Linked DNA regions of Homo sapiens: all the other regions are linked to region 2. Evidence: fine-mapped expression QTL. A gene starts in region 2. Each other region holds a variant in brackets. All regions are shown on one strand. Distances are from middle to middle. Region 1 overlaps TTC5 (tetratricopeptide repeat domain 5). Region 2 holds the start of CCNB1IP1 (cyclin B1 interacting protein 1). Region 3 overlaps TEP1 (telomerase associated protein 1). Region 4 overlaps TTC5 (tetratricopeptide repeat domain 5). Region 5 holds the start of TRP-AGG2-6 (tRNA-Pro (anticodon AGG) 2-6).

Evidence for each region. PIP is the estimated chance that this variant, and not a neighbour inherited with it, causes the effect.
Region 1: its variant is the best candidate, but not a certain one, in a credible set for the expression of CCNB1IP1 in whole blood (TOPMed, PIP 0.67).
Region 3: its variant is the best candidate, but not a certain one, in a credible set for the expression of CCNB1IP1 in whole blood (TOPMed, PIP 0.73).
Region 4: its variant is the best candidate, but not a certain one, in a credible set for the expression of CCNB1IP1 in whole blood (TOPMed, PIP 0.55).
Region 5: its variant is the best candidate, but not a certain one, in a credible set for the expression of CCNB1IP1 in whole blood (INTERVAL, PIP 0.71).

The regions. Positions count from the first base shown.
Region 1 is chr14:20,291,097-20,297,095 of GRCh38, reverse strand. TTC5 (tetratricopeptide repeat domain 5) reads left to right here. Exons shown (of 10, transcript NM_138376.3): 6 at 650-706; 7 at 1,242-1,388; 8 at 1,570-1,784; 9 at 4,969-5,113. Among named protein-coding and RNA genes, the nearest start is that of TTC5, 12 kb to the left of the region's middle. RefSeq lists an enhancer at 841-2,040. The variant C/A (reference allele first, on the strand shown) is at 2,480.
Region 2 is chr14:20,329,990-20,335,988 of GRCh38, reverse strand. CCNB1IP1 (cyclin B1 interacting protein 1) reads left to right here and starts at 2,710. Exons shown (of 7, transcript NM_021178.5): 1 at 2,710-2,735. RefSeq lists an enhancer at 2,631-2,940.
Region 3 is chr14:20,395,679-20,401,677 of GRCh38, reverse strand. TEP1 (telomerase associated protein 1) reads left to right here. Exons shown (of 55, transcript NM_007110.5): 8 at 97-221; 9 at 537-694; 10 at 4,948-5,057; 11 at 5,729-5,819. Among named protein-coding and RNA genes, the nearest start is that of TEP1, 15 kb to the left of the region's middle. RefSeq lists an enhancer at 1-1,049. The variant C/T (reference allele first, on the strand shown) is at 2,921.
Region 4 is chr14:20,297,922-20,303,920 of GRCh38, reverse strand. It overlaps TTC5 (tetratricopeptide repeat domain 5), which reads left to right. Exons shown (of 10, transcript NM_138376.3): 2 at 1,956-2,088; 3 at 3,103-3,314; 4 at 4,473-4,623; 5 at 5,033-5,124. Among named protein-coding and RNA genes, the nearest start is that of TTC5, 5.0 kb to the left of the region's middle. The variant G/T (reference allele first, on the strand shown) is at 2,786.
Region 5 is chr14:20,611,599-20,617,597 of GRCh38, reverse strand. TRP-AGG2-6 (tRNA-Pro (anticodon AGG) 2-6) reads left to right here and starts at 4,126; the gene lies at 4,126-4,197. TRT-TGT3-1 (tRNA-Thr (anticodon TGT) 3-1) reads left to right here and starts at 3,736; the gene lies at 3,736-3,808. It also overlaps the pseudogene RPS26P9. RefSeq lists a silencer at 4,060-4,249 and an enhancer at 4,980-5,039. The variant A/G (reference allele first, on the strand shown) is at 3,666.

The DNA.
Region 1 (5,999 bases), 39 kb after region 2:
TCTTCATTTATTACCAGCACTTCACTATTTAAATTTTTAAAAATCAAAATGATTTCACCTATTTCATTCATTTATTTATTTTTTTTGAGATGAAGTCTCACTCTGTCACCCAGGCTCGAGTGCAGTGGTGCAATCTCGGCTCACTGCAACCTCCACCTCCCATGTTAAAACAATTCTACCTCAGCCTCCTGAGTAGCTGGAATTACAGGTGCATGCCACCATGCCTAGCTAAGTTTTGTATTTTTAGTAGAGACAGTGTTTCACCAGGTTGGCCAGTCTGGTCTTGAGCTCCTGACCTCAGGTGATCTGCCAGCCTTGGCTTTCCAAAGTGCTGGGATTACAGGTGTGAGCCACTGTGCCCGGCCCACATATTTCATTTATATAAAGATTTATTCTATCTTAATACTACTACATGGATAAATTATAATAATATTTTGAAGTCTCACACATACAAAAACACTTATATCCCTAAGGTTTTGGGACTAAGATATCCACACTGTTATACGGTAACTGCTTCTGTGGTATAAATACCATTTTGGCAAGGAAGAAACTTCCATTTCTCTAGAAAGAGGAGGCGTAGGACATGTTGGGCATGTCAGTCCTTAACATTGAGACAGGATCCACTGATAATCTTTTCATCCCATTATAGGAGAAAGTTGACAGAAAAGCTTCTAGCAATCCTGACCTTCATCTGAACAGGGCGACGGTAAGACCTTTGGGGTGTAGTCATCTGAGGGTCAAATAAATAAGACACCTATGTCTTAGCTTGTGAGGATAACTGAGTTTGCATAGGGACAAGATTGGGTACAGACTGCGAGAGGAAAGCCATGCTATTTCTATAAATAGCTAGCTCGGTTTGGCTTCAGTATCTGGTGTAGTCACTGGAGGGAAAGGAGAAGGGGCTGTGGAGGTGGAAGAATAGGTAGAGAATGGGGGGATCTTTTAGAAGACTTCTGAAATGTTAAGTAAATATAAAGGTCAAGTGAGCCAATATATACAACTTAACTATTTTAGAGTTTGGAAATTAGCTTCTTTGAAATGATTCCATCTTTGGGGTTGTGATCATCTTGGCTAGGAAGAAGGATGTAAGGTGTTACCAGCTCTTCAGGCTGTTTGTTGCAGCACAGGAAAATAACCAGGAAGGAAAACAGTTTATTTCTCTAGATTCCTAGCCCATGGTGCCATTCCCTCGGGATAGTTTGTCTGGATATACTTATAATTGGGATACACTTCTTGTACAGTTGCATAAATATGAAGAGAGTTATGGGGAGGCCCTGGAGGGCTTCTCTCGGGCTGCAGCCCTGGACCCTGCCTGGCCAGAGCCCCGGCAACGAGAGCAACAACTTCTGGAATTCCTGGATAGATTAACCAGCCTCCTTGAGAGTAAGGTAAAAATGTCTGAAGGGCTGAATTCCACTTTTTTTTTTTTTATTTTGTCGTGGGTCAATAAAATAAGAATAAATAGGTTTACGAGGTAGAGACCCTATAGAAGTGGGTGGGAGGGAAGGATTAGAATCTCAAGGAAGGCGACTAGTTTCCAGCTTCTTACCTATTTCCCCTTCTTTGCAGGGAAAGGTGAAGACCAAAAAGCTGCAGAGCATGCTGGGAAGCTTGCGCCCAGCCCATCTAGGCCCTTGCAGTGATGGGCACTATCAGTCAGCCTCTGGGCAGAAAGTGACCCTGGAGCTCAAGCCACTGAGTACGCTTCAGCCTGGGGTGAACAGCGGTGCCGTCATCCTGGGAAAGGTGGTATTTAGCCTCACCACAGAGGAGAAAGTCCCCTTGTGAGTTTCTCTTGGATTTCCCCCATTTTACCCTTTTGAACTAATTGCTCTCACTTCCTGTTCTTTCCCTGGCAGTTGAGGAGATTGTCAGTGGTCACAGATTTGTGACTTCTGATTTCCTTCTGTGACTATCCCGTGGGCAGATATTGTCTGGGTGATGTTTAACCATCTTTTGATCAGAGGCTTTTGTAGATTCTGTCACTGCCCATTTTGTATCCCTGAGTTTGGTGCTATGTGGATTCCTATATCCATAGTTGAAATTTGGCAGGACATATTTTTTTATAAGACAGAAACCTCAAAATTCTTCTGTCCCTTTGCATTTTCATGATCATAGAAGTTGAAGGAGGACAAATTTCTTAGTCCTGTTTGTACTTAGGTATACTTAGTTCTGAAAAGTGAGCTTTGAGTTATAATTTAAAGTCTGGTTGGGAGATTGTCTTAGATGTCATTCAACAAATATTTATTGAGTGTGTAATATATGTGTCATAGGGAGTGAGAAAAAAGAAATGTAAAGGACCCAGGTGCAGGTGCTTCTAGCAGCAGAGGAAATGAATTAAGAATATTTGTTTAGAAAATTTTTGGATCTTGAAAAGTTACGGTTTAGTGAATGCCACCACTCCTTGGTCCTTCACTCACTTCCTAATCCCTGGTTGACCGGTTTCCCCTTTCTCTTTTCTACTGAAATTGTTATTTTC[C/A]TAGGATCACCATTGTCTTTCTAGGCACTGGATCCAGCAACTTCTATTGCATGGTTCCAAAACATTCTGACTTATCTCTCACTATTGCTTTTCACATCCTTTCTGTTCATCTAAACAGAAATATTCACAATTCCCATTATATGCCCAAGCTTTCTCCATGGCATTTTCTAGGGGTTTGTATATTTGACGAGTTGAAGGGCAAAAAGATAGTTGAGAACAGTTTAGTTTACTAGAGCAAATCCTAGAGCTGAGAAGAATTAGAAAGGGATATAGACAAAGGTAGGTTTTGGAGGACCTTGAGAACAAATAGATATTTTGCCACTCCTTGGTTTCTCTTTTTCTGCCTAACTTTTAAATCTTAGGTTCCCAGGACTCTATTTTTGTTTTTTTCCTTTTTTCTCTTTATATCAGGATGGCCTATAGTTGCCAACTTTGATCACTTGTCAGTGGTTGCCTGACATACTGTGTAGAAGGATTCTGAGGCTTTGACTGGATTCATCAGGAGAGTGCTTTGCTTGATTGCAATATTTCCTGTGAATTCAGGCATGTCACGTGATGGCATGAGTGTGATTCTTCTCCATCCTGTCTATAGATCATCTTGCCCTGTGATGTCATATAAACCCAAGGCTTTGGCAGCCTCCTATATGCTTACAGATATATCTCCAGCCCAAGCTTCATTTCCAAGTGTTGGATTCCTATAACCATCTGCTTCTGGGTTCCAATAAGAAATCTCTAACTCAGTATTTCAGTATTACTCACCTAAATCTTTCTCTGTAAACCTGCTTCTCCTCCCTGGATTCCTTGTGAATGAATGGTATCACCTCTCAGTCACTTGATTAAGACTTTTGGAAGAATAGGCTTCTCCATTCTCCAAAAAGATTTGCCTTTTTTGTCCTATAGACTTGACTTCTCTGTGTTTACCACCTTAATTCACCCCCTTATCACTTCTCCAGATAGGTCTCCCTGATTCTCTGGTTTCCTCCAGTGTTCCACAGTGCTGCCAGAGAAATGTTTCTTAGATGGAAATCTGACCATTGCTACTTCTTATTTAAGATCCCTTACTGGTACTATATGTAGCTTTTGGGATAAAGTGTGAACTACTTAGGTTAGCATACAAAGTCCTTCATGATTTGCTCCCTGCTTCTCTTTCTATTATCTTTTGTCTCTTTCCCACCAGTGCCTTTTGTTTCAACCATGGAACAATTTTGTTGGTTTTAGAACAGCTGTTTTCATGCCTCTGTGTCTTACATACAGTTACTCTGCCTGGATAATCTCTAGCTTCTTCTTGACATAGCTAACATCCTCTTCTGCCCCCAACATTTTGTATAAAAATTTTCAAACATATAGCTAAGTTGAAAGAGTTTTACATTGAACATTTGTGTTCTCATCCACTTATATTCTACCATTAATATTTTATTTTACTTAGCTTATTACATATCAGTCTGTTTATCCTGCTATCAGAGTAAATTGCAGAGATCAATATACTTTACATACTTTAGCATGCAGTCATTAACTGAGTTCAGTATTTGTTTCAATTTTTTCTTTTTATGTAAAATTTACATACAATGAAATGTACAATTTTAAGCGTACATTTCATAGCTTTTAACAAATGGAAAATATCTGTATAACCCAAATAGAGATCATTACCACCATTCTGGGAAGTTCCCTGATGTTGCCTCCAAGTCAAAATCTCTGTTCCTATCCCCTCAGAGGTTTTTAACATTTTTACCGAGGATTAATTTTTCTCTTTTAACCCAGCTGGTTTTTTACCCTTTAAGATTCACTTTGAGCGTCACCTCTTCCAGGAAATCTTCCCTGCTTTCCAATTTTGATTTAGATATTTGTCCTCTGGGCTCCCACAGCCCAATCTGTGGCTTCATTGAATTCAGCACAAGGGAAAAGCTATTCTAGCACCCATCACACTGTGCTGTAAGTGATGACTTCATTGTCTGACTCCTGCTAGACTATAGGTCATTCATAGCTGGATTGGTATCTTATTGCTAAACACAATGCTTGGCACATATGTAATATTCAGTGAAAGTTTGTGGAGTTAAACTACACAGACAGTGATGGTTAGAGGCTTTGGTTAAGAGTATGATAGTTAAATTGATAGACCAGGAATAATGTTACAACTGTAACATGTTGGTCTAGTTCATCATTAATATTTGTTGAATGGCTTCAGTGTGCTTTGTCCTAAGTTCTTAGCAAAGTGACTGATGAGTTTCAGAAAAATGAAGACTCAGATATATAAAGTGGAAGATGGTACCTCTCATAGGTTTTCTGAGTAACTGAGAAAAAGCATTTGTTTATTTTGTTAGTATTTTATTTTTAAAGTTTAATTAAGTTAAATTTTATATTTTATTTTAATTACCTGTCACTGACTTTAAGTCCAGTATTTTGCTAGTATTTTTAAACCACTGTTTCTGCTCTTCTTTCCTACCCACATACCTTTTTGTTTTCCTCTCTCCTAATCTGTCTTTACTTGGTAGTACATTTGGCCTGGTAGATTCAGATGGACCTTGCTATGCAGTGATGGTGTACAATATAGTGCAGAGCTGGGGAGTGCTCATTGGAGACTCTGTAGCCATTCCTGAGCCCAACCTGCGGCTTCACCGAATTCAGCACAAAGGAAAGGTGAGCAATGGCTAGGATTCTCTTACAACTCGTAGGCTCTAAAAGTAGAACCAAGCTTATCTTTTTATAAAAGATATAGAAATAATTATATGTAAGTATGTGTGTAGGCTATGTGTATATATATTTGTGTGTATATGTTTTATTTATATATATATATGTATTTTTTTACTAAAAAGGTAAACTGGTAAGCAGAAAAATAAAAAAATGCAGTGAAATATTATCACTCAGGTATTACTGCCTTTTAACTGTTACTGTTAACAGTTTGGTGTATATACCTGAAGTCTTTTCTTTTCACAAATATATACACATATATCTATATTTTAAATCATGAGTGGGATATTATATGCAAATGTTTGTGAATGTTTCCTATGTTTTTACATATTTCACCACATTGAGTAGACACGGGGTGATGAAGATGGTAATGATAGTTAACATTTATTTAACACTTAATTGAGTGCTAGACACTGTGCTAAGAGTTTTTATTACCTGCCTTGCCCCATTCAATTCTTAAAAAAACCTTATGAATGTAGATATTTAACTACTGTTTAACCATTTAGATCAGAGGTTGGCAAAGCCCATTGACCAAATCTGGCTCACTGCTTGTGTTTATTAATAATGGTTTCTAGGCTGGGCATGGTGGCTCATGCGTAAAATCCCAGCACTTTGGAAGGCCAAGGTGGGAGGATCACTTGAGCCCAGGAGTTTAAGACCAGCCTGGGCTATATAGTGAGACCCCGTCTCTACAAAAAAATGTTAAAAAACTTAGCCAGGTATGGTAGCACATGCCTGTAGTCCCAGCTACTAAGGAGGCTGAAGTGAGAGAACCACTTTATCTCAGGAGTTTGAGGCTGCAGTAAGCCATTATTGTCCCATTGCACGCCAGCCC
Region 2 (5,999 bases):
GCTGTCTCAGTTTGTTTTCTGTTGCTTATAACAGAATACCTGAAACTGGGTCACTTATTTATTAGTTTGTTTTTTAATTAATTTATTTTTTGGATACAAAGTCTTGCTCTGTCTCCCAGGCTGGAGTATAGCGGTACTCCAAACCTACACCTCATTAGTTCAAGCGATTCTCCTGCCTCGGCCTCCCAAGTAGCTGGGATTACAGGTGTGCACCACCATGCCTGGCTAATTTTTTGTATTTTTAGTAGAGATGGGGTTTCGACATGTTGGCCAGGCTGGTCTCGAACTCCTGGCTTCAAGAGATCCACCTGCTTCGGCCTCCCAAAGTGCTAGGATTACAGGTCTAAGCCATCACACCAAGCCTGGTTTATTTATTTATTTAGTTAGTTTTTGAGACAGGGCCTCACTCTGTCACTCAGGCTGGACTGCAGTGGCACAATCTTGGTTCACTGCAACCTCCGCCTCCCGGGTTCAAGTGATCGATCCTCCCACCTCAGCTTCCTGAGTAGCTGGGACTACAAGCCCATACCACCATGCTCAGCTAATTTTTGTATTTTTAGTAGAGACGAGGTTTTGCCATGTTGGCTAGGCTGTGGGGTAATTTATTTTAAAAAAGAAATTTATTTTTTGCAGTTATGGATGCTGTGAAGTCCAAGGTTAAGGACTGCCTCTGGGTTGCATCTGAACTCCTTCTTGCTGGAGGGGACTCGCTGTGATGTTCCAAGGCGTGGCAGGAAATCACATGGCCAGGATGCTGAGACTGCTAACATGCTATCCTTAAGTCTCTTTGCCTTTTCTTTAAAGCCACTAGTTCCCCTCCCATGATAACCTATTAATCCATGAATAGATTAATTTATTTATGAGGGCAGAACCCTCATGATCCAGTCACCTCTTGAAGGCCCCACTTCTAATGAGGATTAAGTTTCAGCCACTTTAGGGATTAAGTTTCAACATGAATTTTGTAAAAGGTGAAAGATTTATGCGATATGAAGAGAAACTAGAGTGACAACATGAATTTTGAAGGGGACAGTCAAACCATAGCAACTGGGATCTGAATCCTGACTTTACCACTTGCTAAATAGACAAATTCCTTAATCTCTATAACTCTGTTTCCTTTTTTTTTTTTTTTTTTTTGGTGAAATAGTTATAATGAAAGTGCTTACATTCTTGGGTTAATGTGAAGATTAAACAAGGTAATGAATATTACATTTCTTGAATATTTATAGTAAACATTCAAGAAATGTTTTGACTCTAGAAGTTACAATAAATCAATTATGAAATAACAAATTAGCATTTGATGCTAAATGTTGGGAAATTTGGGGCAGGTAAACTCTAAAGTGGATTGGAATAGGTAATTTCTAGTAAGGTGGAAGCAGGGTGGATAGGATGAAATGATTAAAAAATGAGAACTACTATGAGTTAGAGTTGTATCATTTCTCCATATAACTTGAATCTTTATACTTCAAACATTTGCACATTACATGTATATTTGTACATATAACACATACTTGTATATATATTCCCTATTACTATAATAGTATTTATTAAGAATAATGATGAATATTGTGCCGGGGAGTCCTCTAATTATGGCTTAAAAAGAAATCTTTCAGCTTGGGCAACATGGCGAAACCCCATCTCTACAAAAAAATACAAAAATTAGCTGGGTGTGATGGTGCACGCCTGTAGTCCCAGCTACTTACTGAGGCAGGAGATCGCTTGAACCTGGGAGGTCAAGGCTACAGTGAGTCGAGATTTCACCACTGCACTCCAGCCTGGGACACGAAGTGAGACCCTGTTTCAAAAAAAAAAAAAATTTAACAGAGTAAGAACCTATACTTTAACTGGAGGGCGATGTGAGGAGTCAAAATAATTGATTAATCAATTATGTCCTCAGCATTGAAAGTCATTGTTTTTGTCTGGAGATGTGTAAAACGTACACTTTGATCTCCAGTTGTTTATAGTCTACTTGGGAATATAAATCTAACAAGAAATATGTAATAACAATAATAACAGCTAACATTGTTGAGTACTGTGTACCGGGCATTGTACTGAGTACATTATATAAATTATTTTACTTAATCCTCATAACCATCAGAGTAGGAAGATTTCATCTTTTTTCCCTCTTTTTATAGTTGGAACTGAGGCTTAGATGTGTGCAAATAAGTGGCAAGGTTCAGATTCAAAATCAGCTAAATTTTATTTGAAGCCTAAAACACTTAACCCACCTACCTTTTATCTACTAAGCCTGTTAGTTCAAAGATTACCTGAAGGTAAATTTTATCAGGCCAGCTTTGGATCTGGGGGGAAAAAATGAAGGTAAATTTTAACTTGAATCGATCTAGACTGTTTATAATGGAATCTGTTGCCTAGCATAAGTTAAGCATGTTGAGGTCACAAAGGATAAGAAATTACCCTTAAGGGATGAAAATTCTTTAGAATAGAATGCAGTAGGCCCACGCAAACAACAACGTGTATAAATAGCTTAAATTAGCCTGTTTTTGCCTAAGTACATTAACTCAAAAGGAAACTCGGTTTAAGAAGTTCACTCCAAAAATAGTGCAAGAAGCATCACTGGTCCATAAAGAGGGGTGGAGTGGGTTACGTCATTTCAGCACCTTTTAAGGTAAAGGAGGAGGGAATCCTCTTGAACTCATTAGCCAATCAGGTTCTGAAGACACTTCCCAAGGCGACTTCCTGTCTCTCCACTTTCTTTCCCTCTCCGTTTTGGTGGGCTGGTGAGTGTGCGCTTAATTTTGCTCTCTAATTGTTTTGAATTTCTCTTCCATTTGAGTTATATACCCAGGTGGCAGGCCTTTATTTCAAGTCGGCATAGGAGTGTGTGTGAGTCGCAAGGAGATTAATTTCGGCTGTGTGGAGGTTGGGAGAAGGCAGTGAAATGCTCTTCCTGGCTTGTTTCCACGTGGGCCTCTGCAGTACTGGGTTTGCCTTCCGTCTCCGAGTCCTGGTGACCCAGGAACAATAGACTGTGCTTCATGTGCACAGTGCGTGTGTTCTTGGAAAACGCCGGCTTCATTTTGCTTGGCGGGAAAGATATTATCATCCTAATGCTGTTTTGATTTATATCTCCCTGGGTGAGGTCAGATTTCGGGAGAAGGCGTTCAGCTCAGTAGAGTTTAATTCTCCGGTGAGTGTCTAGAGGGCCCAGGTCCTTACTGGGTTTGTGGAAGCTGCAGCGTACCTTGTCTTTCTCCTGGCCTTCGCTCAGATCATTTCGGCTTTCTTGGTGAACCTGGGCAGCAAACTCTGAAGACAGATAAGCCTTAAAAGGAGCTCCTAATTTTTAATGTTGCCACTGTGGTGATTGTGTCCTTAAAAGCTATGGAAAAAGATTAGGGACCTTAGTTCAGGGCAAGCCTCTAGATTTAAATTCCAGCGCCACAGTTTACAGCTCTGGTGACCTTGGGAGAAGCAGTGAGCCATTCCGAGGCTTAGCTTTCCAAGATCAGATAAAATATATAAAAACTAGGCTCTAGTTGGTGTGTAATAAATGTTAGGTACCTTTAGAAGTAAGCAGTACTTATTTATTTACAGCAAGTATTTTGGATATCTGTTTTCTCATAAAAAGTTTGCTTAGTGACCTTCAATGTCATTTCACTGAATTCCTTTCTTTTGGTACATGTTAATTTTAATGTGATGTTTGTGTTGGATATTCTTATAGGCAGAAAGTGTGAGAAAGACAAATAATAAACCAGTTAATCGAATGTAGTAATAGGTATTTGTAGGCCTCCCATAATTTTTATAATTCTCAAGCATTGTTAAAATTTATTTTTTGGGGCATGGCGGCGCATGCCTGTAATCCCAGCTACTCGGGAGGCTGAGGCAGGAGAATCGCTTGAACCCGGGAGGTGGAGGTTGCGGTGAGCCGAGATCGCGCCATTGCACTCCAGCCTGGGCAACAAGAGCGAAACTCTGTCTCAAAAAAAAAAAAAAAAAAAAAAAAATATATATATATATATATATATGTATACACATCATATATATATATATTTTTGAATAGGTAATACATTCACATGGTTCAAAATTCAAAAGATATCAAAGTTTCTTATCCCCTTCCCTAAGCCATCCAATTCCTCTCCCTCATAACAGTGTTACTAAGATATTTTATGCATATAAGCAAATATGTGTAGGTATCCTTCCCTTTTACTATACCTACTCTACTATGTGTCTTACTTTTTCCACTTAAGTTCCATGAGTAGAGTGTTCACATTCTTCATAATGGTAACATAGTATTCTTTAAAAATTATTTTTTTTAAAAAATATATTTTTTCAGTAGGTTTTCAGGGTATAATGGTAACTCAGTATTCTAATTTATGTACCTACTATAATTTATTTAGCTTTTATCAGTAGGTATTCAGATAGTTTATGATCTTGATATTTCCCCCTCAAATGAATAACCTTGTAAATCAGTCAGTTGGCATAAAGGCATTTCAATTGGGTTTTGGTATATTCTTGTTTAAAAGGACTCTAGATATTTTGCAGTGCTTCCTATTTATATTTATTTTGTACACGGTGGTGATTAGAAACCAATCAATACTCTAAACTTGATTGAGCAATAAAGGATTTTCTACCGAAAGGAAAATCATCTTGATGGCTTTTATGTGAATATATCTTTGCCCACTTTGGTTTGAGTGGGGATGGTTTATCTTGTTATGAGCATGTGTTTAATGCTGGGAAGGAGTGACAGCAGTGGCCCAGAACAACCAAGTCATCTTTGTATTCACAGGGGCAGAAAGGGCATGCTTTCAGTGTTTACTTAGAAAATGTGTGCTGGATATGCCCCTGAACTCATGGTGTTGAGGGCATATTTTAGTATTAAGTTAGGAAAAGCTGAAATGTATTTTAGGATGTAAACATGCAAAATAAAAAAGGAAGCCTTTGGGAATTTCTCCAAAGCTGTTTTAGTCTTAAGAGGCTTAGTTCCGGTTTTTTAGGTGGAAGTTTTGTGAGTTGGGAAAACATTACATTCTTTCCAATGGAAGCATGCTTTTGTTAATAAGACTTCATAATACATTGGAGTCTTCATTGTTAAGTAGGAAATGAGGGGAAGGGGGAAGCAAACCTGTGTCTTTTTTGCTTGAAGGACAATATGGCCGGGCGCGGTGGCTCACGCCTGTAACCCCAACACTTTGGGAGGCCGAGGAGGGTGGATCACCTGAGGTCGGGAGTTCGAGACCAACCTGATCAACATGGAGAAACCCCGTCTCTACTAAAAATACAAAATTAGCCGGGCGTGTTGGTGCATGCCTGTAATCCCAGCTACTCGGGAGGCTGAGGCAGGAGAATCGCTTGAACCCGGGAGGTGGAGGTTGTGGTGAGCCGAGATCGCGCCATTGCACTCCAGTCTGGGCAACAAGAGTGAAAAAAAAAAAGGACACAATATCTTGGAGTTGGAAGGGCCCTTATGAGTACTATATGAGTGACCTTTCTGGCTTCTGGGTTATTGTGAGAAGTGTGACTTTTTGTTGTTAAATTTGTTTTTATTGTAGATTCACGGGGTACATGTGCAGGTTTGTTTCAGGGTATATTGCATGATGCTGAGGTTTGGGCTTCTATTGATCCTGCCATCTAGGTAGTAAACATTGTACCCAATAGGAAGTTTTTCAGCTCTTGCCCCTCTCTCTCTTTTCCTCCTTTTGGAGTACCTAGTGTCTATTGTTCCCAACTTTTTGTTCCTGTGAACCCAGTATTTAGCTCCCTACGCAAGATTTAGCTCCCAACGCAAGATTTAGCTCCCACTTATAAGTGAGAACATGCAATACTTGGTTTTCTGTTTTTGCATAAATTCGTTTAGGATAATGGCCCCCAGCAGCATCCAGCAGCTCCAGTTGCTGCAAAGGACATGTTTTTTGTTTTTTTTTTTTTTATGGCTGTGGAAAAGTGTGAAATTTTTAGGCAGAATATTTGCCTTTCTACTCACTAGCTGGTTGAGCTTGGGCAAGACATAGAAATAACATATTAAACATTTAACTCCATGCCAG
Region 3 (5,999 bases), 66 kb before region 2:
ATAGGGATCGGATGGTCTTACAATCTGCTTTATTGAAGAAAGTTCCCATGGTCATGGATGAAAGGACCCCTGTGGGACTTGGGGATGTTTCCACAGTTTGAGAAGGCCGGTGATACAGTGTCAGAGAAAAAGAATCCTCCAAGGTTCACCCTGAAGAAGCTGGTTCAGCGACTGCACATCCACAAGCCTGCCCAGCACGTTCAAGCCCTGCTGGGTTACAGGTGAGAAGCTGCACCCTGAGCATGCATTCCATCTAAGTAATTCCTTAACTTTTCAACATCCGTGGCCCCCATCCCAGTAGTTCTCAAACCCAGCAACATGACTTTAGACAGACATGCCCTGTAGACATGACTGCCTTTCCAATTGCTGCCTTTCCTTTTCTGACTCACCTGTAAACATGACTCACCTTTCCTTTTCTGAGTTATTTTTAGGCATATTTGGGCAGACATGCCCTGTAAACATGACTCACCTTTCCTTTTCTGAGTTATTTTCTTGCTGACTCTGAAATGATAGACCTCTTTCTTACCTATCCTCAGATACCCCTCCAACCTACAGCTCTTTTCTCGAAGTCGCCTTCCTGGGCCTTGGGATTCTAGCAGAGCTGGGAAGAGGATGAAGCTGTCTAGGCCAGAGACCTGGGAGCGGGAGCTGAGCCTACGGGGGAACAAAGCGTCGGTCTGGGAGGAACTCATTGGTAGAGTGACCTTGACCATCACATTCCCTCCTTCTCTTCCCCATTTATGCCTCCACATTTTAGATCCTCACTAGAAGATTTCTGTGGAATGATGAAGTTATTACTTTGCCTGGTTGTTGTATTTGATTTATAAGGTCTGCCATTGACTACACCAAAGTAAACAGTGGTACCTGCTTTGAGTAATGTTGGCATCATAGATCATTATACCAGATGTAGTTAGGTGATGTACAAGTTTTTATCAACATATGACAAAAGTACCTTCTCTCTCATTGTACTCATATCGATATCTCTGTAACTCATTCCAAAAAAGGTAGGACTGGCACATGGCATATTGGAATCTGTACAGAACCTCATATTGTATTTAGGACATGGAAGTTTTAGGTAATTTGCCCACATTGATACAGAAAAAAAAAAAGTCAAATAGAGGAGGATCAAGTTATCTTCAGTTTTCTCTTTCTCTGTTTTTTTTTTTTTTTTTTTTTTTTTGGTCTACTTTTACCTATAGCAGGCTCTTTCTTTCGTTTTTTACTTTATAAAATTATTACTTTTCTTTTTAAATTTTAGAGACAAGGTCTTTGTAATGTTGCCCAGGCTGGTCTCAAACTCATGGCCTCAAGCATTTCTCCTACCTTGGCCTCCCAAAGTGCTGGAATTATAGGCATGAGCCACTGCACACACACACACACGCACCCACACACAAACACACATACACACACACACCTGCCCCCAGTTGACAGCCTCTTCTTCCCTGATGGTTGAAACCACTTGGGGTGGAGTAGAATAAAGGGGCCTGGATAGAAGCCGGTATATGTAGATAATTCTTTTTTTTTTTTTTTTTTTTTTTTTGAGACGGAGTTTTGCTCTTTTTGCCCAGGCCGGAATGCAATGGCGCAATCTTGGCTCACTGCAACTTCTGCCTCCTGCCTCAGTCTCCCGAGTAGCTGGGATTACAGGCGCATGCCACCATGCCCAGCTAATTTTGTATTTTTAGTAGAGACGGCGTTTCACCATATTGGCTGGTCTTGAACTCCTGACCTCCAGTAATCCACTCGCCTCGGCCTCCCAAAGTGCTGGGATTATAGGTGTGAGCCACCACGCCCAGCCATATGAAGATAATTCTATATGCACCCATCTCCACTTCCTCCCTCTGGTTGAGAACCACTGTCCCTGAAAATGTAAGGACATGTAAATTTATTCTTTTAATGTCATTTATCCTGGTTGAGGCAAATGCCCATAGTCTAATCCCGTGGTGGCTAGTGTTTCTTTTTTTTAATCATATACTACAAAAACAATTTTTAGGATACACCAGAATATATGTATATGTACTTTTTTTTTTTTTTTTTTTTTTTTTAAGAAACAGGGCCTCACTTTGTTGCCAAGGCTGGTCTCCAATTGCTGGGATTACAGATGTAAGCCACTGTGCCCAGCCAAAAATAAATATAAATAAATAAAAGGAAATATAAAAAAAGATATAAGTATAAAATATAAGATAAAATGTAATTGGATATACAGAACCCTTTTTGAAGACCACAGATCTCATTAATAACTCATTAACATTTTTTTGGAATGAAATTAGTGAATTTTGCAATCTTAAGGATAAATGTCCAGTTTATTTTCTAATATCACCAGTATGATATTGGACTTAATTTCTTACCGAAAATGATCTAGAAAACCTTTTATACATAGTAACAGTGGAAAAAACTTGAGTCGACAATGGATGCAATAGTTCATTTATAGTACATATACAACCTAATTGTTCCATACAGTTTGTGAATCAGAATTATGACTGGAGGCCAGGCACCATGGCTCACGCCTGTAATCCCAGCACTTTGGGAGGCTGGGGCGGGCAAATCACTTGAGCTCAGGAGTTTGAGACCAGCCTGAGCAACATGGTGAAACCCCGTCTCTAACCAAAAATAGAAAAATTAGCTGGGCATGGTGGTTGATGTCTGTGGTCCCAGCTGCTTGGGAGGTTGAGGCAGGAGGATTGCTTGAGCCTGGAAAGTGGAGGTTGCAGCGAGCCAAGATTGTGCCACTGAGTGACAGAGACAGACTCCATCTCAAAAATAAAAAAAAAAAGAATGATGACTGGAGAATCCCAAGACTTCCAGAGGGCTGAAAGCTTCCAGCTATAATTCAAATAAGACTTACATCCCCTTTACAAAGGGAGCAGCATTTACCTGATGAAGCTGCTGATGGTGTGGGCTGGTGCACAAGGCATGGTGA[C/T]GGACTGACCGGCCTGGCCTCTAAAGTGGTTTGAATGCACCTCTGTCCAGGAAAAGAAAATCACACCTCCTATTTATGTTTACTTTTATCTAAAAGAAAAGAATTTTCCCAGTACTTACCATGCAGATTGAACCCACATAGTCACTGAATCCATATGATACAGTGTTATGTGTTACGTGTAATAGTTGAGGTTTTCTGAGCATCCACAATCTGAGGGCATTAATGTCACCCCTTCACTCTTTTTTTTTTTTAATTTTGGTTTCTATATAATTTGACTTATAGCAATTTATCTTTCAATTGTAGATGGATTTGGAATTATATTATTCAGTATTAACCAAATTAACTGTCTAAAATTGATATAAACCTTTTTTTTTTTTTTTTGGGCGGAGTCTCACTTTGATGCCCAGGCTGGAGTGCAATGGCGCGACCTCGGCTCACTTCAACCTCCGCCTCCCAGGTTCAAGTGATTCTCCTGCTTCAGCCTCCTGATTAGCTGAGATTACAGGCGACCACCACCACGCCCGGCTAATTTTTGTATTTTTAGTAGAGATGGGGTTTCACCGTGTTAGCGAGGATGGTCTTGATCTCCTGACCTCATGATCCGCCTGAGTCGGCCTTCCAAAGTGCTGGGATTACAGGCGTGAGCCACTGCACCCGGCCTAAAATTGATATAAACCTTAAAAATATTATTATTAAGAAACTATGGGCTGGGCATGGTGGCTCACGCCTGTAATCCCAGCAATTTGGGAGGCCGAGGCAGGCAGATCACTGTAGATCGGGAGTTTGAGACCAGCCTGGCCAACATGGTGAAACCCCGTCTCTACTAAAAATACAAAAATTAGCCAGGCATGGTGGTGAGCACTTGTAATCCCAGCTACTCGGAGGCTGAGGCAGGAGAATTGCTTGAATCCAGGAATCAGAGGTTGCAGTGAGCTGAGATTGCACCACCACACTCTAGCCTGGGTGACAGAGTGAGACTCCGTCTCAAAAAAAAAAGAAAAGAAACTATGGCTTGAAGATAATATTAATAACACAGGTACAAGGGAACAATAAGGAAGTGACAGAGGTCAGTGGTGAAATTCTATCTCCAGTGCAAATCTTTTTCACCTATATTTAAGCAAAAAAAGTAATGACTAATCAAATAGAAGAAATTGGGTGAGAAGCTTACAAATTATGAAGACTATTTCAAATATGGATTTACATACATTCGTCATTATAAATGGTGAACTTTTTTTTAATTTTTTTTTTGGAGACAGAGTCTTGCTTTGTCACCCAGGCTGCAGTGCAGTGGCGTGATCTCGGTTCACTGCAACCTTCGCATTTTGGTTTCAAGCGATTCTCCTGACTCAGCCTTTCGAGTGGCTGGGATTAGAGGCACCAGACACCACGCCTGGCTAATTTTTGTATTTTTGTAGAGACGGGGTTTCATAAATGGTGAACCTTCTTTTAAATGGATATTGTGCCTTGAAATATTAACTAATGAATGTGCTACATTATGTTAGTATATACTTCATAAATCAACTTACACTACGAAATTTCTCTTTTGGCCATCTAAAAAGTTTAGAAACCTTTGCTCTAGACTAGATAATACATTTTGCCAGTTGAACCCAATCTTAGGGCTAGAGCCAACAGATTAAGTGGTAACATAACAGCCATCCCATAAACAGTGTTGCATAAATTTTGTTCCAAACTTTGGGCCAACCCTGTTTTTAATCTTTCCAAGCCTTTAAAACATTTTGAGTAGGGTAGATTGTATGTGAATTCCTCACTTCCTCTATCTTGGACTTTCCACATGCCTGGTTTCTGAACTTCTTGCTCTGGTCTCTGACCTCTCTCTAATCATCCCTCATTTGCTTTTTTTTTTTGAGACAGTCTTGCTATGTTGCCCAGGCTGGACTCTAATTCCTGGGTTCTGGGCTCAAGTGATCCTTCTGTCTCAGCCTCCTTGGTAGCTGAGATTATAGGTGCATGCCACTGTGCCTGGCCTTCTCATTTGTTTTTCTCACTCTATGCCCCACATTCCACAGAAAATGGGAAGCTTCCCTTCATGGCCATGCTTCGGAACCTGTGCAACCTGCTGCGGGTTGGAATCAGTTCCCGCCACCATGAGCTCATTCTCCAGAGACTCCAGCATGCGGTATGTGTGAGGGGCTGGTAGCCATGGGGCCCAGCAACTAGATGTGCACGTGGAGAGGCCACTGCTGCTTTAGAGGCCAGGCTTTTTCAGGGGGCAGAGGCAGGTACGGCCCTCAAGCTGTTTCCATGTGGGCTGTAAGTAGATCTGGGAATACAGCTAGGTTGAGGGAGATAAGTTTTGGGGTTCAGTAAATCCTTTGAGAAGTTACAGTAGAGTATAAGAACTTTCATTTTAATTTTCTGAGCTCAGTGACTTACCAGGAAGAGACACTTGTGTGATGTAACTGATTTCAGAAGGAGTCTTTGTTTTTTATTTATAGAGATGGGGTTTTGCGATGTTGGCAAGGCTGGTCTCAAACTCTTGAGCCCAGGCAGTCCACCTGCCTAAGGCTCCCAAAGTGCTGGGATTACAGGCGTGAGCTACCACACCCTGCCCAGAGGGAGTCTTAAAAGAAACGGGGCTCCTTCTGTTACTTTCTCTTCTTTTGTTACCTTTTCTCACATCCTAAAATGATGACTTTTTTCTTTCTTCTTATTACCCCTTTTCTATATCTCTTGTCTAAGTTCATTTTGTCCTTCTGTACCTTCCCACAAAGCTAATAGAGTGGACCCCTGAAGCCCCCCATACTCCCGGCTCCTGTGCTCATGACCCCTCCCTCCTTTGCTTTCTAGAAGTCGGTGATCCACAGTCGGCAGTTTCCATTCAGATTTCTTAACGCCCATGATGCCATTGATGCCCTCGAGGCTCAACTCAGAAATCAAGGTATTCTCCCCTTTCTTCCAACTCCTCTTTGCCTCCCACATCTGACAATAAATGAAGCAGCAGCACCAATATTTTTAGCCTCTTGCTTTGCAGTCTCAGGGTGTATCGGGGTGGGGGGCAGAGGTCAGGCACTTGCCAGCCCCAAGGGTTGGGGCTCAGGTCACATTACTGGTAGGAAAA
Region 4 (5,999 bases), 32 kb after region 2:
ATGCAGAGATCTGGAGAAAGTGTCCAGGCATAAGGTCTTCCAGGTGGGCTGAGCTTGATGGGTTTGAGAAACTGCATGAAGGCAACTCTGGCTTGAGTATTGTAGGAGAGAGAATGGTGAGAGGTGAAGTTTGTGTCAGGATGGGTGGTGGTAGGTCAGCTCATACAGTCTTCTAGGTCATGATAAGGACTTGGATTTTATTCTGTCTGCAATGGGAAACTATTTGAAGGTTTGTGATATGATGTACGTTTTTTATAAGATCACTCCCACTACAGTGAGGAGAATGGGAGAGAACAGAAACAAGATGACTGGTTAAGAAGCTCTTGCAGTCCAGGCAAGTAATGAAGCTGATGTAATCCAGGAATGGTCATAGTGGGATGGAGACAGGTGGATGAATTCAGGATGTGTTGTGAAGATTGTTGATTACACTCGAAGGGAAGTGATTATATCTTTCTGCTGCTATCTATTTAGTTTCAGGAAAGAATAGGATATCTGTTATCTGAAATGCTTAGGACTCGAAGTTTTTTGGATTTTGGATTTTTTTGAATTTTGGAATATCTGCATATACATAATGAGATAACTTGGGGATGGGACCCAAATCTAAATATGAAACTTGGTGGCTTATGCCTGTAGTCCCAGCACTTTGGGAGGCTGAGGTGGGAGCATTGCTTGAAATCAGGAGTTTGAGACCAGCCTGGGCAACCTACGAGACTCTTTTTTTTTTTTTTTTGAGACGGAGTCTTGCTCTGTTGCCAGGCTGGAGGGCAGTGGCATGATCTTGGCTCACTGCAACCTCTGCCTCCCAGGTTCAAGCGATTCTCCTGCCTCAGCCTCCCGAGTAGGTGGGACTACAGGTGTGCGCCACCATGCCTGGCTAATTTTTGTATTTTTAGTAGAGACCGGGTTTCACCATGATGGCCAGGATGGTTTCGATCTCTTCATGATCCGTCTGCCTTGGACTACCAAAGTGCTAGGATTACAGGCATGAGCCACCACGCCTGGTGACCCTGTCTTTTAAAAAAGAAAAAAAAAAAATTGTTTCATTTACACTTTATACACATAGGCTGAAAGTAATTTGATACAATATTTTTAATAATTTTGTGCCTGAAACAACGTTTTGACCGCATTTTGACTGTGTGTCAGGTGTGGAATTTTCTACTTGTGGTGTCAGCGTTTCAAAAGTTTCAGATTTTGGAGGATTTCAGATTTTTGCATTAGGGATGCTTGACCTGTAGTAGAAAAGCTTTGCCTGGTGTGACAGGAAGACTCAGAGGCATTTAAGAGGAAAGAGAATATTTATTTGTAAAAAATCCAAGGCAGCCAGAAGATGACTTGACAAAAAAATCAAACTAAACAAAACCACAATAAGCATTTAAAAGAACAAAATGCTGCAAAGATACCAAAGTTACCAAGTTCAAATTGGTATGTTTGTGGTGGAAAACAATGACTCTCTAACATGTTTATTATATTCACAAAGGTTGTGTTGTATTTTCAGATCTCAGCATATGAAAAATCAGGGATAAAATGGTTTTAGTTGAGAAGTCCAACTTTAAGGGTAAATTTCAAAGTGTTATTCTTTGAGGACCAGGACCATATAGAATGATCTTACTAACTTTTGGTTTATCTTAAGTTGCAGTGTTTCCCTCCTCATGACTGTGGTATGTGAAGTGCTTAGTCATATTAGAAGCCCTGCTGAGGCAGGGAGAGAAAATGGTCATCACAATAGAGACACTGGCATGGGACAACATGGGACCATGAGAGCTGGCCTGGGGTACTGGCTGCTTTTCCTCATGATTTGTGGCATTTTAGTAAACCTGTCCACCTGCCTATTGTGCCATTCATAGGTGAGAAAGAGAATTGGTATTTCTAGACCAAGAGCTGGTATGGCTAGCCAATTTCAAGTTTCCCTATCCAGTGATCTTTCCACTTAATGGTTCCATTGTCATACTTTTTAGGAACTCGTGGATCAGCTCTACTCATTTCGAGACTGCTATTTCGAGACACATAGTGTTGAGGATGCTGGGAGGAAGCAACAGGATGTGCAGAAGGAGATGGAGAAAACCCTACAGCAGATGGAAGAAGTAGTGGGTATGAGCCCTAGAGATTGTACAACCCCCATCCTTCAGTGAAATGTGATTGACCTTTGCTCCCTCCTCATTGACTCTTTGGTATCCTATCTGTTACTGCTATAGGGTAGTACAACGTAATACTACTTCTCAGGGCCCCTGTGCAACCTTTCATTCCCTAAGCCACTTTTCCTAAAATTTGATTATAGCAAATGGCATGAAATGAAAGAGCATACTTACTTGAACTATTGCAGTAATCTGACTTTCTGCCTCTAATTTCTTTTACTTTCAAATCCACTTATATAATACCATGGCCATGGCTATCTTTCTAAATCATTACTTCATGCATTTAACCTTATCCTCTCATCTGCCTTTTTGCTCAGGTATCTTTAAAGATTCCTGCTATTGACTAGCTGAAGTCTAACCCCCTTAACCTGGTATTTAAGTGTCCATTGTTTTACTCTGTTTTCTAACCTTATCTCTGACTAATTACTTGTAGAGGAACTTTCTGTTTCATCCAGGTTGAACTGTCTATTCTCCCATGAACATGGCCACATGTACTTCTGATTCTGTGTCTTTGTTTATATCATTTTCTAACCTGGAGGGTCTTTTCTTCTCTCTCTCTGTTTTGTTTTAACGATAACTATTTGTCCTGACTCATCTTCTCTTCACTTGTTAAAGCCCATTCATTGGGCTAATGCCATATGCTCTTTTTCATG[G/T]TTTTAATTTTCCATGTTTACGCTTTGTCTTCTCCACTAGATTGTAAACCCCTCTAGGAAAGTTAGCAACCGAGCTGATCCTTGTAGATAGGGGCCCAAGAAACAGATGGCAGAAGCTCTAGAAATAGTGCTTTCTTTGTTGCCTAATTAGCTAACATACACTCTGCCTATGGTGAGCTTTCAATAAATGGTTTATTGATAAATATTTTCCCCAACTCTTTTTATTCCTAAAACTGACGTGTAGTTATTTTTTGAGAGAAAGTGCCCTGGTCTTTAACTTGTTTTTTTCCCACTTTATCTTTTTTTCTTCCTCTTAGGTTCTGTCCAGGGCAAGGCACAAGTTCTAATGCTAACTGGGAAAGCACTAAATGTGACTCCTGACTATAGCCCTAAGGCTGAGGAGCTTCTGTCAAAGGCTGTGAAGCTGGAGCCCGAGCTGGTGGAAGCCTGGAACCAGCTGGGTGAGGTGTACTGGAAAAAAGGGGATGTTGCAGCTGCCCACACCTGCTTCTCAGGAGCCCTCACCCATGTGAGCTGCCCCCTATCCCTTTGGAAAGCAGAGATGGGAAGGATGAATTTCTTTGGTTCTATGAGTTTCCCTAGGACATGAATACCAGAGTAGAACTGAAATTGAACTAGGACAGAATCAGGAGGGAGGAAAGGTCAGAGAGCAGACCTGAATGAGGAAAATAGAGGCAGGGGCCTGGGAAAGGAAGATGATGATGGGATCAGGTTCAGGGGGAGAAAGGAAGTGAAGAAAAGCTAGCAGCTAAGCTGATCCCTGTGGATGGGGGTTGAAGATACAGATGGCAGCAAGAATTTAGATGAAAAAATTAGGGCTGGGTGTGGTAGCTTACACCTGTAATCCTAGCACTTTGAGAGGCCGAGGCAGGAGGATCACTTGAGCTCAGGAGTTTGAGACCAGCCTAGGCAACATGGTGAGACCTTGTCTCTACAAAAAAAAAAAAAAAAAAAAAAAATATATATATATACATGGACCAGACGTGGTGACTCATGCCTGTAATCCCAGCACTTTGGGAGGCCAAAGTGGGGAGATCATTTGAGGTCAGGAGTTCGAGACCAGCCTGGCCAACATGGTGAAACCCTGCCTCTACCAAAAAATACAAAAATTAGATGGGCATGGTTGTATGTGCCTGTAATCCCAGTTACTCAGGAGGCCAAGGCACAAGAATCACTTGAACCCAGGAGGTGGAGGTTGCTGTGAGCTGAGATCGTGCCTCTGCACTCCATCAGAGTGAGACCCTGTCACAAAAAGAAAAATACGGCCAGGCGTGGTGGCTCACACCTGTAATCCCGCGCTTTGGGAGGCTGAGGCAGGCAGATCACTTGAGGTCAGGAGTTCAAGACCAGCCTGGCCAACATGGTGAAACTCAGTCTCTACTAAAAATATAAAAATTAGCCGGGCATGGTGGTGCATACCTGTAGTCCCAGCTACTTGGGAAGCTGAGGCAGGAGAAAGACTTAACTCGGGAGGCAAAGGTTGCAGTGAGCCGAGATCACGCCATTGCACTTCAGCCTGGGTGACAGAGCAAGACTCCACCTCAAACAAAACAAAACAAAAAACTTAGAAAGGTAAAAAATTAGATTTAGAAGACTGAGTTCAGAATAGATCTGGAAAGGGGAGGTAGAATCAGGAAGATTGAGTATGTGCCCTTCCTATTTGCAGTGCAGGAACAAAGTCTCCTTGCAAAACCTGTCAATGGTGCTTCGTCAGCTGCGGACTGACACTGAAGATGAACATTCTCACCATGTCATGGACAGTGTCCGACAGGCTAAGTTGGCTGTTCAGATGGATGTCCATGATGGCCGCTCCTGGTGTGAGTGCTCTCAAAAGATCTCCAACAGGTTTCTAGAGCAGATGTTTTCAATCAGAGCAACATTTGCAGTCCCTCTTTTGAGTGTGATTCTGAGGTTTAAGCCAGAGAGGGCATCTTTGTTTTGAAGACACACGAAAGACATTTTGGGGAACTACTTTTCTAGGAACTCTTCGATCTTTTGATCCTAGTTTTCACGTAAGCAAGGAAGGGCTTTTGTACAGTCTGTTCAAACTTCAGTTTGGTGTCCTTGGTGCTCTATCCTAGTGGAGTTTTGGGTATACTAAGTATCGTGTCATTCCTGGTTTGGATTTCTTGTGGGACCTTTCAAATATACTTTCAAGAATGATCAAAATAAGTCATATCTTGAACTTGGACTCTGAGATGATTTGTCACTGTGTTTCTCTTTCAGATATTCTTGGGAATTCATATCTTTCCCTTTACTTCTCTACTGGCCAGAACCCTAAGATCTCCCAGCAAGCCCTCAGTGCCTATGCCCAAGCAGTAAGTACTTATGGTCACCAGGCCAGATGAATAGGCAACAACAGAAGCAAGAGCATTGTTCAGTCTTCTTTGTGGCCCTTTAGCAAGCATCATGGGCAGTGGCAGTGTTTGCTGGCATCTCATTTTTGTGATTTTGCAAAGATGTGTCTGCAGAGATGACTGACTTCTTATAACTTGAGTGTTAGGAACCACTTGCATCGTGTCGCATTGGTGCTGGATAGCTCCTTGACCTGTCTGGGTTTCTTACACACATATATAACCAAATCACAGAGCTGCCTCAACATGTTCATCTTTTTTAATGGGAAAAAAGTCTATTAAAATAATACTTATTAATATTTTTGTACATTCATTTTAAAGAATAATGAAAACTTATACTTCAGTGTAAATTAAGTGCTATCCCCAAATTAACCGTTAGGTAATATTATGGCTCTGGATTTCCCATGGGCTAAAAGAGAAAACAATGTGTAGCTTGTTCTGTGTCATTTCCTAGGAATTAAGTGAATTAGGTTATTTAGGTTTTCAAGAAATTTATTTAGGTTTTCAAGCATTTTTATGTTGATAGGCATTTGCATAGGGCTTTCCCTCAGACTTTGAGTGCCTTTTTTCTCATTATTAGAATTGGCTTCTGACTTCACATTGGTCCTCTGAGCACTTTTTATTTAGCTCTCATATTTACCTTTCTTCTTTTGCTTCTCTTGATATAGAGAATTGCTTTTTAACTTATCATTACTTATTCTGCTCCCTGTGGTAGAATAAAGAACACAGTTACTGTATGTTCATGTTTGCAATTCAGGGACTGCCCTTTTAAATTGGTTTTTCTCCCCCTCCTGCCACTCTCCCCACAACTCTACCTTTGACTTTAAACTGCCCTTTTT
Region 5 (5,999 bases), 280 kb before region 2:
TCACTGGCTATCTCTGCCTCCTGGGTTCAAGCAATCCTCTTGCCTCAGCCTCCTGAGTAGCTGGGATTACAGGTATGCACCACCACGCCAGGCTAATTTTGTATTTTTAGTAGAGACAGGGTTTCACCATTTTGGTCACGCTGGTCTCGAACTCCTGACCCTCAGGTGATCCGCCTGCCTCAGCCTCCCAGAGTGCTGGGATTACAGGCGTGAACCACAGCGCCCGGCCAGTCCATTGCCTTTAAGCCAGACTTTTAGGAAGTCAGACCACTATCTCTAAGCAACCAGCCCAGGAAGCCAAACAATAACCTCTGTAAAAACCAGACCCAGTGGCTAGGAATTTATGAATAATTAACACCTTTCCTATTATTTGTTTCTGTTTCCAAGTTAGCATCAACCAGAGAAAGCCAAATATGCATCCCTAACCAATCACATAGGATGCCCCGCTTCTAGTTAGCCTGCCCACCGTGTCCCCATGCCACAGTCTCCAGTCAGGGCACACTTGAAGGCTTCCCTTTGTCCACTATAAAGTTTTCCCACTCCTCTGCTTGCCTTTGAGTCTCTGCCAAATCACAAGTGACGTTCTTTTGGGTCCCCACTTCCAAGATGGCAAAGAAAAGAAATAACAATGGTCATGCCAAAAAGGGCCACAGCCACGTGCAGCCTATTTGCTACATGAATTATGCCCTATGCCTACCCAAAGGCAAGACTATTAAGAAGTTCATCATTCAAAACGTAGTAGAGACTGCACCTGTCAGGGACATTTCTGAAGCTAGTATCTTTGACGCCTATGGGCTTCCCAAGTTGTTCGTGAAATTCTGTTACGGTGGGAGTTGTGTCATTCACAGCAAGGTAGACAGGAATTAATCTTGTGAAGCTTGCAAGGACCGAACACCGCCACCCTGATTCAGACCTATGGGTGCTGCCACATGACCCCTACCAAAGCCCATATAAGAAGGTGAGTCCTTAAGGATTGAAGAAAAACTCTCTCTAGAGAAAAATAATATGGAAATTATATTTTTAAAAAATCACAAGTGAAGGCTGCTAACTCCTTTGCTATAGAAAGCTCTGAATAGCTTTTGCTGGTTCTCATTAACTGGTGTTCATTTATTTCCACATTAGGATTAAAGTTTTTCCAAATGAAAAGTTGAGGGGAAATGGAAGAAATACAGACAAACAACAAAAAAAGCAATTAAAAATATTGCTAAGATTACAACTAGGGGTCAAGTTGCTCAGCAGAGGAAGTGCTCAGGATGGGCCAGAACACACTGGAGCACAACCAGGTTTGCTGATGCTAAGTCTAATAAACTAGTAGAAGGGGCTTTTGGAGTTTCGTAGCGTCAGACACGCCAACTCGAGTGAATTGTGGAGTAAGGGCCTGGAAGAATGAGAATGTAACATAAGGTCCTGGGACAACCTTTGATGGTAGGAAGTGGGCTGAATGTGGATAGGGTCAATTGGTCAAAGGTTTATTTGTACTGATAGAGGAGTGAGAACCCTCTCCGCAAAGCCAGCCTCTGTCTAGCAGAAACCAGAAACATCAGATCCATGGTTGTTGCCCTGGCTTCTCTCCTTGGAATACTTCTTTGAATATTTTAAATTATTATTATTATTATTATTTTTAGACTGAGTCTGGCTCTGTCGCCCAGGCTGGAGTGCAGTGGCGCCATCTCGGCTCACTGCAACCTCCGCCTCCCGGGTTCAAGCAATTCTCCCGCCCCAACCTCCCGAGTAGCTGGGACTACAGACCCGTGCCACCATGCGCTAATTTTTTGTATTTTTAGTACAGATGGGTTTTCACCGTGTTAGCCAGGATGGTCTCAATCTCCTGACCTCGTGATCCGCCCGCCTCAGCCTCCCAAATTTAAATTATTCTTAAATGAATAACAGTCTGTGGTTAGAAGAGAAGAAATCAATTCATGTAGGGAATAGAAGTGAGCTTGCCAAATTGTGACAGGGTGAGAATGAGGGGACAGGTTCTAAGAGAAGGTGAGGGGCCATCATGAATACCATCAGAGAAAGACAAGCAAAGAGAGGAGGAGAAACAGCAAAGAGGAAGAAGGCCGTTTGAGAGACAGTTTCCACTGCTTAGTAATTTTGCCTATGGCCAGTCTCTCTGAAAATAATAATAATGAAGATAATACTAACAATGATGATAATAATAAACACCTATTTTGAAAACAGGGACGTTGAGACCTGGCAAAGTTAAATAACCGATTTAGGTTTTTTCTAACCACTGCACTACATACTCTATGTCTATACATGCCAACAGTCACACATCAACTATGACCAAAAGTTTATTTTAATTTGACTTTTCTGCTCTAGAAAAAAGGTAGGCGTACTTGTGTTCCCCTGACGTAAAAAAAAAAAAAAGGTAGGCAACCTGCCATTTCCTTAAGCTATGAGGTGTGTCTTTAGGCCCAAAGAGAGCATGTTAGAGGTTTTCTCCAGTGAAGTGTCTTGTGTAGGCAAATAGAGTATAGAGACTCAATTTTTAATTCAATCAGTTAAAACAAAGCCTTGTAGTTCTCTTGGGAGCAGAAGACTGAGGGTTAAACACCCAGGAGCAGTAGAAGGAACAGCCCTTGTCAGGCTACAAAATATATGTATTCATCTCACCTTAGGACAACATTGTGAGGCCTCTTCCTGACTCATCCCTAATCCAAGAAAATCTGCCACAAATGCCTTACTTTGCCTATCTAAATAGAGCACTTTTCTTCCTTGAAAATGTGTAAGGTCAACAGCATCATGTTTTACGTTTAAATAATGAAAAATAAAGGAGACAATGAATCATAATAACCTTACAGATTTCTTACAAATTTTGTGATCTTGGACATGAAAGCACTAAAAAATAGTGAGTATAAGAGCAGAGCTGTGGTCAGAGGGTCTAAATCTTACTAAGCAGAGTCGCGTCACTTCTTGGTGTTTCATGAATCAGTGCTTATTTTCCAATGTTCTCACCTACGGCTTATTTGCCGTAAGAAATGGGTACGAGATCTTTCTTAGTTAAATAATTGTTTAGTTTCTGTTCACCAGCTTATATAAACAAGGTTTCTAAAAATTAAAAACAATCTTTTCTAAAAAGTCGTATTATTTTCATACCAACTATGTGTAAATCTGTGTATGTCTTCAGGGAAGGATTAAACTCTTCTTCCTCAACACCCCTTTTCCCTGTTTGCTTCTACCTCTGGACCTTGGAAGAGTGAGGGATTAACTCCAGAAAGAGTTAACTTTCTTTCCTCTGACCACAGAAAACTCCTCCAAGTTTAGAGGTTTAGGGATCTGGATTGAGAAAGGAAAAAGCCGTGGAAAATCTCTTCTCACCTCCGTCCCTGGATTTTACCACCATATTAAGCGGAAGGCGAGCACTACAATTTCCTTGTCCATCAGACGCCCTCCATAGACGCCTCATATTTCGGGAGGTGTGTGTGGGGGGGGTCGCCCTTGTACCCAAAGATCTGAAATTCTTACATCAACACCGTTTCCATGCACCACAGAGGCACAGTAGGCAAAGTCTCAAGAGAGTATCACGGTGAGGAACGGGAAGACAGCCTGATAGTTGCTCTGCTCAAAGCAGAACCTTTTCGAGGGATTTACAGAGCACGAAAATGTTTTCATTTTGTAGGAGAATATCCTGGAATTTTACTCAAGCTAACATCCTATTC[A/G]GTAGCCGGAATGCTAGGAGCATAACATCAATCTATAAGATGAAAGGAAGAGAAACTAAAAGCAGACGAGGGCTCCATAGCTCAGGGGTTAGAGCGCTGGTCTTGTAAACCAGGGGTCGCGAGTTCAATTCTCGCTGGGGCCTGTGTGTTTTTTCCTCCTACCCACAGGGATTTCCACATCAGGAGGTAAGCGGGGTCGGACAACGCGGCAGCAACGTGACTGCCGCTTGGCACATCTGCATGTCTTCGGCGCCTCTTCGGCTGTCATTTAGGCTACGGGGGTTCACGCCTGCTGCAGAAGCTGCCAGTCTCAATGACTCTTGGGGCGTGTGGTTTACCTCTACTATTCAAATAAGTACGCATTCTTGCCGATAGAAGGCACCCAAGAACCTAGTTTATCAGAAAAATGCCTAATGATTTGAATGAGCCTTAGTGCAAAACTTAAGAGTATCTGTATCGCGGCTCGTTGGTCTAGGGGTATGATTCTCGCTTAGGGTGCGAGAGGTCCCGGGTTCAAATCCCGGACGAGCCCTCGCTCTTTTCAACTCAACAAGGTGTGTCTTGTTTGAAAACTTCACGACTGCACTTTGCTGTCCCTGTATACCGTTCTTTGAAAAATTGCAGCTATTAACTCCCCAGGGATGTGAAGAAGCAAAGCACAGAAAACCCCAGGTTATCCTTCTTATTCTCTCTGACAAACTGTAACACATCTTCCTCTCCCTGCCTATCTCTAGCAATCCTGTCAAGTCAAATAAAACAGTCTATGCAAAGTTGCTCGGAAATTTTAGCCCTTGGTAAACACAAGGAGCTGCTTTCTTTCCTGGGAATGAATTGGGAGCTGACACATACTAACATTGTCACCATGTGTAACTGTATGATGTGTTATCTTTTAAAAAGGGGTTTACATGTTATTACATAATATTGCCTTTTCTTCTCCTTTTCCTTTCTTTCCTTTTTCCCCACCCTTTCTGGTGTTTGTTTGTTTTGTACTGTGAGGTAGGCAATGAATTCTGTTAACTCCAGTGGAGCAATAGAGTGATGAGAGAAAGTGTATCTCCAAAGGCAAATTTTGAAATGTTAACTTTAAAAATAATGTTTTGTGGATCCTTAGCAACTTTCTTTAGTGTGTGAATAACTATTACAGAATAAAACGATTCCATTAGAAGTGAACTATATCCCTTCCTGGCAACAGATGGACTAACTTACCCACATCGACACTCATCATCTCTGTCTTCTGTCTTGTTTCAAGGCCCATCTTTCACTTCTCATATTTGAGGGCAGCTCCTTCAGTTTCACATCAGATGAATTTCGCATTTCCTCTCCTTCGGGTAAGGACTTGGTTTCTGAAATCAACATTACCTCCGCTCCTCCACCCCCAAGCCCCTAACAACACACACAGCAGCTATTTCCCCCAGTGTGCCAATCATTTCCATTAGCATACAAACACTAAACAGCTGCAGTATCACCAATCCTTTAAAAAAATTCCTTCTTAGCCACTCTTCCCAATTCTCTTTATTCTGCATAGATAGAAAAAACTTCTTAAAAGTTATGCACTGTGTATCTCAACTTCCTCCCCTCATGCTCTGTCCTCAACCAAGTATGATCAGGCCTTTTTTCTCCACCACGCTACTTGAAATGGCTTTTGTCAAGGTTGCCAATGACTTTGATGCTTCCAGATCTAAAGGTCACTTTTCAGTCTTCGTCCTACTTCATTTCTCATCTCAGGAGGCTACTTTTCAGTCTCTTTTAATGGCTCCTCCTTTCCTGACCTCTCAATATTTGAGTGTTATCTTGCTCTCCCCTTGCCAATTTTTTTTATCTCTCTATACTTATCAAGTCATGAGGCTTAACATAGCATCGTATACTGATGATTCCTATTCATAAGCCTTGATCTAGATTTGTAGATATAGTCACCTGCTTGCCCCAGCATGTGAACAAGTTATAGGCATCTCAGAATTTACTTGTCTCAAATGATACCCTTGATTTCCTGCCACTTCTCTTCCAATTGCTCTCCAACCACCACCCATATCTCAGGAAACAAATCCATCATGTATCCAGTTTCTCCAACATCACATCCAATCCACTGTTCTATCTTCGTCTATTTCCCAACACACTCATTATCACCCTGGTCTAAACTCTCCTTCATCTCTTACACATCCCAATGATAGCCTTCTAACTCATCTTCCTACTTTTTCTCTACTCCCTATTCTAGAGAACAGCCAGAGTTATCCTATTACAATGTAAGCCAAACAATGCTCTCCTCCACTTAAAAGCACCCAATAACTTCTCACATTTAGAACAGAATCTGTGATCGAGCCCTTGTGTGTTCTGATG